Regions from separate parts of the Homo sapiens genome. Here region 1 is linked to region 2. The links come from fine-mapping of genetic effects on gene expression. A gene starts in region 2. The other region holds a variant in brackets. All regions are shown on one strand. Distances are between the middles of the regions.

The links. PIP is the estimated chance that this variant, and not a neighbour inherited with it, causes the effect.
Region 1: its variant is fine-mapped to the expression of FAM81B in whole blood (TOPMed, PIP above 0.99). The same link has a PIP of 0.9 or more in blood mononuclear cells.

What each region holds. Positions count from the first base shown.
Region 1 is chr5:95,411,415-95,416,808 of GRCh38, reverse strand. FAM81B (family with sequence similarity 81 member B) reads right to left here. Exons shown (of 10, transcript NM_152548.3): 4 at 2,619-2,862. Among named protein-coding and RNA genes, the nearest start is that of FAM81B, 23 kb to the right of the region's middle. The variant A/G (reference allele first, on the strand shown) is at 2,899.
Region 2 is chr5:95,388,751-95,394,144 of GRCh38, reverse strand. It overlaps FAM81B (family with sequence similarity 81 member B), which reads right to left and starts at 2,779. Exons shown (of 10, transcript NM_152548.3): 1 at 2,632-2,779; 2 at 1,248-1,351. The coding sequence starts at 2,755. LOC105379089 (a long non-coding RNA gene) reads left to right here and starts at 2,973. Exons shown (of 3, transcript XR_948586.1): 1 at 2,973-3,075. RefSeq lists an enhancer at 762-1,619.

The DNA.
Region 1 (5,394 bases), 23 kb before region 2:
CAGCCCCCCAAAGTGATATTTCGACATTAGGACAATAATTAAGCAAATCATGGTGTATGCACCATGCAAAGAGATTTTAATGAGACATGATAGAGTTTAGGATGAATGTTAGAATAAAAATCATGCTTACAAACATAGTCTCAGCCTCCTAAATGGAATACTTGGAAGGACTAAAGGGAGATTCATCTGGGTATTTGTAGAGATCACCATTTGGTGGTTGAATTGTGAGATATTTTTTCCCCAAGTTTAAACATTTTTTTCCTAAACTTTCAAAATAATTATGATGAACAAGTATTGCTTTTGTAAGTTGAGGGGAAAACCCACAGTAAAACAATGCTATATATAAAATTTTCTTTGAGTTAAAAATAAATTAATTCTAAAACTTGTAATCAACTGCCTTCTTAAAAAAAGGAATCATTTGATTTTTAAAAAGAAACAAGCACTTTGATGCAATTGTGGTAGATTAAAAAAATTTTTTTTTCATTTCATTTATGGACCTGTGTCAAGCTTTAGCTCACACTTGAATTGATCTTGATAGCCAACTTGCAAATGGGCTGACCTGGTTAATGAGGTTAGGTTCTTTTAAAATACTTGAATAGCATCCATTTCTCTATAAAGTGCATATAGTTATTTACTAAAGGTAGCTGAATAGTTTCTTCTTCATAATGTTTTAACTATGTTATCTACAGCCTTTAAAATATTTTCTAGTTCAATTTTCCACAAACTCAATCCAGTCCTTTTCATTTTCCTATATATGCCAAACCCTTAATAGGATTGTAGGTATTTTGAGATTTTTGTCTTTGTCTTTTGGAAAATGTTTTGGATTTGTCTTTTTTTAGAGAGCTAATCTAAGATAGTCAATTATTACAGAAAAATAAACTGTTTACAAGATTTCTAGAGATTTGAAAGAAAGACTTTCTCCTTATTGCTAATAGTATTTTACTGGGGTATAATATGTATTGAACGCACAAGTCAAAGTGTACATCTGGGCGGATCTTGACTCAATGTAATGTAATCAACCATATAACAATCCAGATCAAAATATAGAATATTCTTAGAAACAGTTCAATGTTTCTAAGAATGTTGTTGGCTTTTTCAATTACCAAGAAGTTTTGACTCCTAAATTGGAATCTTATTTTAGCACTATGCTGTACTTACTTGATTTTCTAGTCATTTCAAAAGGCACAGGGCTGCTTGCCTCTTGTCACTTTCATGATACTTCATTATGCATGGAAATACCTTTAATCACTTTGAGAGTGGCATTGACCTTTGAAGCACTGAGGTCAATTCAAAATGTGCTAAATACCAATAAAGTGCTTTTTAAAAGTTCACTGAGAGTTTTAACTTTTCACACTGCCTCAGGTACATTATGGGGTCTGTTAAACCCTGCAGATGGAAAATGAATTAATCAATATCCTTGCCCTTAAGAACAAATTCACAAAGGAGTAATTGCTGGTTCAATCCCATAATTTTAATAAAATCCAGTATTCTCTTTGATAGTAGAAAAGGACAAGTATCGTGAGACTGCATTGTTGTCAATTCTCATGATAACTCCACAAGTTTTGGGCCAGTTTCCTAAAGTACACTATCTGTAGCCCTTGCATGAAAATTGTTAACCCAGATTCATCACGTACATCTGCACCCTAGCAACTCTCGAAGACCTCTTACACAAGCATGTTTCTCTTGATTTAGACAAAGAATTTTCTTTTTTTGATGAGAAACTCTATTTTTACTCTAATGCCTTAAAATTAATTAATTTATTCATTCATCAATTTAAGGAATATTTAGAGTGCTGACTACAACACCACTGTTGTCTGGTATGGGATATGGGATTTAGCATGAAGAAAACAAACTCTTTGACTTTATAGAGATTATATCTTAGAAAGAGAAAACAAACAGGAATCAAATATAGACCATGGTAGTTTGCAATGAGTGCTATGTGACAAAAAAAATAAAGTAGGCTTTAAGGGAGATTGAAACCATGTGGGTAGAGGTGCTATTTTATAAAATGTCATGCAAATCCTCTGTTACGAGGCTATATTTGAACAGAAACCTGGAGGAATGAAGCACGTTGCATAGGAATATCTAGGGGAAGATGATCCAGCCAGAGTGAATTATGAGTGCAAAGACCCCAAGGCCAGAATGTGTTTGGAATGTCCTAGGAACAGCTGGGAGGCCAGTGTGGCCAGAGTGAAGGAAAGAAGGGTAGAAGACGGGGCTAGAGAAATTGCTGGCATCAGATTGCAATGGCTATACAATGGAGCGTTACTGATGTGCATTATGAAAACCTCTATTTGAAGTTATTGCATTAATAGAATCTTGGAGATTTAGGCTAACATAAGCATCTTAGCACAATGTCTGACATAATGTCTTTGTTGTCACAAAATAAATATACAGTAAATATTTTTTGAATAGAAGTTCCTTCTACTTTTTGGCATAAATGAACAGCTGAAAAATTGAACTGTTTCCCTCTTAGACCACTAAAATGTAATCATCTAAACTTAAGCAATAGTGATATATTTCTGCACTTGAAAAATGACACTGATGGTTGATAATCTTTATCAAGCAATGCTGCCAAAATACAAAACAAAAACAAAATAAAACAAAAAGAGAACTACCTCAATATTTTGGCTGAGTTTTTTGACGATGCTGGTGATGGTCTGGATGTGGCTTTCCAGTAACTTCCTGGCGAGCGATTCCTCTTTTCGAAAGCCATGGGTCCCCTGCAGGCAAGCAGAGATGTCCTCCTTGATGCGGAAGGCTTGTTCAAGAAGGAAAGCTATGGTACGCGCCTGGTTGTTCAGTCTGTCTTCTAGCTGACCTCTCTGGGTGTTTGGAATGATGGGGAGAAAAGCATGACTCCTGATCAGAAAAAGGAAAAGGAAACACCAGGGCATT[A/G]CAAGAATGAGCTGGAGGAGCCAGGAACCAGAACTAGAATCCTCACTTCTGATCCTTTATTTTTGCCCTGTGAGAAGTTTGATAGGATTTTAAGCACTTGCCATGGTTAGAATTTGGTGAAGGTCTCATCTAAGAAGCAGATGCACTTTTCATGCTTCAAGCCAATTGGTGGTAGTTAGGAGTGGGTAGAGGCATTCATGAAAGAAGATGTTAGAAGCCTTCTTCCAAGACTGACGCCTTTATATACCCCTTATGAAAATTCTACTTTAACGTAGAAAAAATTAAGTTTTTATAACTATAAAGATGCAAAAGTGACTGTGTTAGAGAGTTTTCCAAGGTGTGAGTCCTGGAATAGGAGTCAGGAGGATAGGCCACCACAAAAGAATTCTATGATCAAATACACTTAGAAAACCTTGCATATGATGTCTCTCCCTTAGAGATTCACATTGTACATTTTCATATTGTCTAACAGAATTATTCTAATTTCATAGTTAAGGAAATTAGTTCATGAATGGTACCAATCATAATCCCAAAAGACATAATCTCAAACATTGAAATTCCTAAAGTTTAAAATCCCTTGACTGGATTAAGGGATACCTAGAACCTGGTGTAGCAGTGTATCTTGTGAGGGTGTTTCCAGAGGAGATTAGTGTGTGAGTCTGAGTGCACAACGTGAGAAAGATCTATTCTCAATGTTTTGAGTGTTTCGAAAATCATAGAAAAAGTAAAAACACAGGTGAAAAATATAACAAATGTCCCCTGTCAAATGATTCAATCATGTATGACTTCTGCCCCTTCACACATAGTGCCATGCTTGCCTTCAAAAAACACTCTTCATCAGAGAATAAAAAGAATTCCACAAGCTGAGCAACATTCTGAACCAAAGATGCTTGCCGATATAGAGGTTCCTCCAGTGTTCTGAAACTCATTGAGTGATGAAATATTCTTAGTTTGGGATTTGACTGTCAAAGAAGATAGACTTCCTATATTTGCCACTAAATCTAACATAGACAACCTAGTGCATCCTTCACTTTGGCTGAGGAATGACACTTTGAAAATCGTCCCCATCTTTCTTATCAACTGTATGCCATCATGCCCCAGTTGGATCCAAACATTCTTGAACTTACCTGCTTCTTTATATATTAATGACTGGAAAAAGTAAAGCACTTTATAAACATTTATTTGAAGATTTGGTGGACTTTGCAGAAGAAAATGGATTTTAGTAGAATCCCCAAACCATGACAGATTTGGAATTAAGTCCCTTCAAGGCTTCTAAAAGTGAATCTCAAGGTGTCATCAATAAAATTTGTTTTTGTCATTCAGCCCAATGCATATGGTGAAAAATTCAGACAAGTGAATTGGCCACCCCATATGGTTTAAAAATATTTCATTTGTTTGCAGTGGCATTCCTCCCAGCTAATGACATTTTAGGAAATTTTAATGAATTAAAGCCACATTTGCCTGAAGAAGCCAGCAAAGTTACCAACTGGTTCAAATATAATTATGCACATAGTAAGATAAGAAGACACACAATAGTGTGACTATTTGATTATCAGTATTGCTTCTGCATATGAGTGCATGTGGAATGAATTTCTGTGTACCGAAAACAGCATAGAAAAATTATGCAAAGATGGAAATATTTAATAGGGATTGCTCATGTTGGTGTATGTCGAATCATAGAAGAATTTCAAAAAGAGCAGTGCTATGTGGAAAAGGAATGAAATGTGAACATATTCTCTGACGAGAGTCATGTCTTAAAAAAAAAAGCAGCAATTCATTGCCATGCAAGACTTCAAAATATGACTGTGAATGTTGGCCAGCTCTAATGGACTACCTCCAGGCAATTGCCCATAATGTATCCCTGTAATATACTTTTTCAAACGTTGAATTTTCTTTCTAGTTCTTTCCCACTATCTTAAATTGTCAGCATTGTTATTATTACTTTTCACAATTTGCTATGCTGTGTATTTCATCTTCACATCATTTGCAGTACTGGAGTATAAATTGTATAAAGACTTTCAGAAAGTTCTAATTTGTTTTATGTATATTTTGTCAATTTGACTCCACAAAAGTGCATTATCACAACATTGACTTTGTGTGTAAGCATTGTGTATGTAAAAATGTTGAAACTTCCCCAATAAATGAAGAGATGTCCTTTTTTGTACAACTGCATTTGTGAAAGATAAAATTTCTTAAGATCTCAGCTCTTTGTGCAATTGCATATGCCGTAGTGACTCATTGAAGTTTTGGATCAATCTTATCAAAAGACTTAGGTTATCGTCATGGTGTTTCAGATGACTACAGTTATAAAGCTGGTTGCATAAAATTACCATAGTGTTATGCATTTATACATTTTGAATCTTGACTTATTTCTTTATGAATATGGTTCATCCACTTATAACATTATACCCATATGACTGTTGTTAGTATACCTGTATGTTTATGCTTGTAAAAATACAAATGTTACTATTGCCTATTTTATTATGTAAAGTGGCC
Region 2 (5,394 bases):
TATTTGGAAAAGTATAGAAAAGTTAAAGATACAGAATAAAAATTCTCGCTTGTAATTTTGCTACCTAGAACAAAAGCCACTGATGTTGGCTTTTGGTGCAATTTTTTAAATGTAATTTTTAGGTATCTAAGACAGTATTTAAATTTTTATATCTTTGCTAATTGAACATAAGAGTCAGTTCTGTTTTATCCTCATTCCTATAAGCTAGGATGTTATTATATATAAAAACTGTCTCACAAACAACTTGATGGCCACTATGGGAATTTTTTTACATATATCAGTTTTATCCATTTCATAATAATGCTTTGAATGTTATAGCTTTTTGGTTTTATGGGCTATGAAATACGTTCTTGTATATGACATAATTTTATTTGACATGAATGCCCTATAAAGTGGATATCATTACCTTCCCATTAGTGTAAGGATGACATTAGTTACCTTAAGAAGCTGAAACCCTTATTATGGAAAGAAATTAAGATGACTATTTTTTATAGGTGAGGAGCTTCAGGATCAGAGAAGTACGGGACTTGCCCAAGATCATGTAGATGATGATGATAATCATACTGTAGCCCTTCCTACTTGCTAAGCACTTACTTAAGTGACTCATTCAAACCCACAATAACTTTGTATGATAAGCCTAATTCACCCATTTTACAGAAGAAGAAACAGAGGTTAAGTAATCATTCCAAAGTCCCACAGCTAGTATGTGGTACAGCCTATTATATAATACATACCAAAAATCAATGTTTGATATTGTGCTAGTGCTTTATGTAACAAGTGACTGCATCTGCCTCTTGTTATGTAAATTACAAGGTGTTAAGAGAAGTGCAAAAAAAGTCTAAAAACACTGCTTTAAAAAATGTTCTTTTTAACGGAGAAGATACGACAAGTTCTAATAAAGGAAACATTCTATTTAGCTATACCGGTTTTCATGTTAGAGATAAAGATAAAGTCTGCACCTTGAGTTTATCATGGTTCCTTTTGAATCATCATAAAACATACATAATGATCAACTTAAAAGAATTTTAGCCCCATATATTAAAAATCAGTCTAATTAATGAAATTGTAAATTGAGGTCATTTTTCTTTTCAGCTTGTGTTTTCAGCAGCCATTTTGCCAAGACAGAACAAACAGGAAATGTGGGAGAACTATTCTTCCAGAACTTCTTAAACTCTCTAAGCACTCTAAACTTTAAAGAAGCTGAGCAAAGTATTCTACTTTTAATGTGAATATTGAAAAGTACTTGCTTTCTTTTCTTGGTTATTGTCTGAGCCAGGAAGGGGGCCATCAGGTTCAACTGGCTGTTCCTCTGCAGTCGCAGTTGGAGAGGCACTTTTGTTTACATTTGTATCTAGGTAACCAGAATGCTGAATCAGGTCAGGAACTATGACAAGTGAATTTTTGCAGTGCTGCTAATTTTTTTTTAATTGAGGGCAGTTTCTGTACATATAGCTTGGCTTAAAGGGAGGCTTTCAATTTGCTTTACATTTCCCCTCTCCTCACTTATCCCAATTCTCCCCCATCCCCCCATAACATCTATAGTTAGCTAGAAGAGCATTTCTTTACAGATACTTCTATAAGACCTTTAGAAACTTTTTTAGGATCAGACAGCTCTAAAATAATCAGGAATGTATTTTTTTTAAATTATACTTTAAGTCCTGGGATACACGTGCAGAACATGCAGGTTTGTTACGTAGGTATACACGTGCCATGGTGGTTTGCTGCACCCATCAGCCCATCATCTACATTAGGTATTTCTCCTAATACTATTCCTCCTCTAGCCCCCAACCCCCAACAGGCCCCAGTGTGTGATGTTCCCCTCCCTGTGTCCATGTGTTCTCATTGTTCAACTCCCACTTGTGAGTGAGAACATGTGGTGTTTGGTTTTCCGTTCCTGTGTTAGTTTGCTGAGAATGATGGTTTCCAGCTTCATCCATGTCCCTGCAAAGGGACATGAACTCATCCTTTTTTATGGCTGCATAGTATTCCATGGTGTATATGTGCGGCATTTTCTTTATCCAGTCTATCATTGATGGGCATTTGGGTTGGTTCCAAGTCTTTGCTATTGTGAACAGTGCTGCAATAAACATACGTGTGCATGTGTCTTTATAGTAGAATGATTTATAGTCCTTTGGGTATATACCCATTAATGGGATTGCTGGATCAAATGGTATTTCTAGTTCTAGATCCTTGAGGAATCACCTCACTGTCTTCCACATGGTTGAACTAATTTACACTCCCACCAACAGTATAAAAGCGTTCCTATTTCTCCACATCCTCCCCAGCATCTGTTGTTTCCTGACTTTTTAATGGTTACTATTCTAACTGGCATGAGATGGTATCTCATTGTAGTTTTGATTTGCATTTCTGTAATGACAAGTGATGATGAGCTTTTTCTCGTATGTTTTGGCTGCATAAATGTCTTCTTTTGAGAAGTGTCTGTTCACATCCTTTGCCCACTTTTTGATGGGGTTTTTTTTTCTTGTACATTTGTTTAAGTTATTACTCTGTTGTGCCCAAGCCTTCTGAGGGTCTTCATTGGGATTCATTATTTTGTTTATATGTAATAAGAAACAGAAGAAAGATAGTGAAGTAGGAGAAATTTAGAGACCTCGAATAGTCCATAAGTACCTGAACTCATGATGCTTGCTTTTCCAGCTTTATTTTTTGTAGATTTGATATTTTTGAAAAACAATCTCTGTGATTTTTTTCTTTTTTCTGAGGAAGCCAATGTACCAAGGAATTGTAATTGCATCCTAACTAAGGTCTTCCTGTTTCTGGGGCCTCTTCCCAAGGGTGACTTAGTAGCATTGTGACTGCAGGAAGGATCTATGATGTCAGTGTGGCTGGCCCTCACAACTGAAGTCAGGAAATCCCTGGGATTTAGAAGCTTTGAATGTTTTCTGTAGTGCTCATCATCATACAAATCACTAAGCCTTTCACTTCTTTGTCTCATGGGGTGGGAAGTGGCCATTGTTATACTGATATTTCACACTCTTCTCCTGATTTCATCTTCACAGTTTGAAAAGTGACGAGTTATCATCAAGCTAGACAAAGAGGAAATGAAATGCTGCGGTATGCCCAAATCTTTCTCCAAGTATGTTAGGGAGGAAGCTAACTCTTCTAGGTTAGAAGGGGACTTCACAGATAGTGCAGCACTGATGAAAAGTGACATGGGTCAGAGTTTTACAGAAATGAAAATATTGAACTTTGCCTTTGTAGGGGAAATTTTGTTCAGTTATTTAGCCAAAAGGGGGTGGATTGTTTTAGCTGTAAAATGTTTGTCTGAGTTTTAAAATTAGAATTTGCATGTTTGTTAGTACTACTTGGCCTCCATATACAGAAATGATGCTTTGGCTAAGTTGTTGTCCAAATTATGGTATCAGATTTGCCTTGTTTAAAGGCACACAATGTTCAGGATGCTGAGTGACAAACTTTGATCCCACAGATAAAGGACACCTATGATTTGGGCTTCCATGCATATCCCCTAGTCCTAAGCTAAGCCCTTAAAACTCAAAGATGCAGTAGTTCATGGTTTGCAAGCAGTCCAAAAGGCTCATTATGCTACCCTAATCACCATTGTATCTAGTGCCAAGGGAGACTGACACACAGCAGTGACTAAGAGCAGGTGGCTACAGATTCTGAGAGAGTGGATTGGAACCCTGACTCCTCAACCTACCAGCTGTTTAGTTTGGACAAAATTACATCACCTCTTTAAGCCTCAACTTTCTCCTCTGTGAAATGAGCTAATAATATCGATCCCATAAGATGGTTGAGAGGATTAAATGTAATAATATACTTACAGCGCTCAGCTGAGGGCGGTGCCAGGAATCCACTAAAAGATAACTATTATTAGCGATTATTTCACAAGGTGCCAATTATCCAAGAAACAGTCACAAGCAGAGTCTGTGTGAGAAAGAAAAACTAGATTTAACCTTGCTTAACAACTTTTTAAGATTCTTTCTCTTCTTAAATTCAGCTTTTAATCCATGGTATTTGGTTAGAAAAATGGGCCCTACTAAAATGGACAATTTTGGTAGGTTTGTTCTCTAAACATAAATGGCTATTCAATTTTAACATAACAATGCACATAATATATATGTATATTATTAATGTCTGCTCTGGTTTGAATCTCTCCACCAAAACTCATGTTGAAATGTAATTGCCATTCTTTTTTTTTTTTTTTTGAGTTGTAGTCTTGCACTGTCACCCAGGCTGGAGTGCAATAGTGCGATCTTGGCTCACTGTAAGCTTGGCCTCCCAGATTCATGCCATTCTCCTGCCTCAGCCTCCCAAATAGCTGGGACTACAGGTGCCCACCACCACACTCGGCTAATTTTTTGTATTTTTAGTAGAGACAGGGTTTCATCGTGTTAGCCAGGATGGTCTCGATTTCCTGACCTCGTGATCTGCCCACCTCGGCCTCCCAAAGTGCTGGGATTACAGGCGTGAGCCACCGTGCCTGGCCTATTGCCATTCTAATAGTATTAGGAAGTGGAGGCTTTAAGAAGTGATTAGGTCATGAGGGCTCTCTCCTAATGAATGAATTAAAGCCCTTATTGTGGGAATGAGTTAGTTATCATAGGAGTGGGCTCCTGATAGAAAGGATGAGTTTGGCTTAGTTTATCTCTTTCTGTCTTGCATTCTTATTTCCCTTCTTGCTATGTTATGATGTAATATAAAGATGTATCCTCTCAATCTTGGACTTCCCAGCCTCTGGAACCATGAGCCAAATAAATGCCCAGACTATGGTATTCTTTTTTTAGACAGAGTCTTGCTCTGTTGCCCAGCCTGGAGTGCAGTGGTGCGATCTTGGCTCACTGCAACCTCTGCCTCCAAAGTTCAAGCAATTCTCATGCCTTAGCCTCCTGAGTAGCTGGGACTACAGGTGTGCACTGCCATATCTGACTAATTTTTGTATTTTTAGTGGAGACGGAGTTTCACCATGTTGGCCAGGCTGGTCTCAAACTCCTGACCTCAAGTGATCCACCCATCTCAGCCTCCCAAAGTGCTGGGATTACTGGTGTGAGCCACCATTCCAGGCCCCAGACTATGGTATTCTGTTATAGCAGAAGAAGATGGACTCAAATAGCTTCCCACTTGTCTAAAATGCATATGTAAAATCCTTCTCAGAAGTCAATAATCTTCATATATCTTTTCTAATCTAGGGCTAATAAAAGCACAGAAATTAAAAATGTTCAATTTCAATCTTTAAAGTGGCCTTATACTATAGTATATTTAATATAGATCTAAAGACATAATCCTGACATGGTGGTCAGTGATGGGGGATAGTCAGTGTTGAAGGTCATCAGACAGAAACGCTATGTGTTGTGCACTACACAACCCTCTGGGGCACTCATGGTAACACTGTAGATTTTCATATTTGTTACAGTA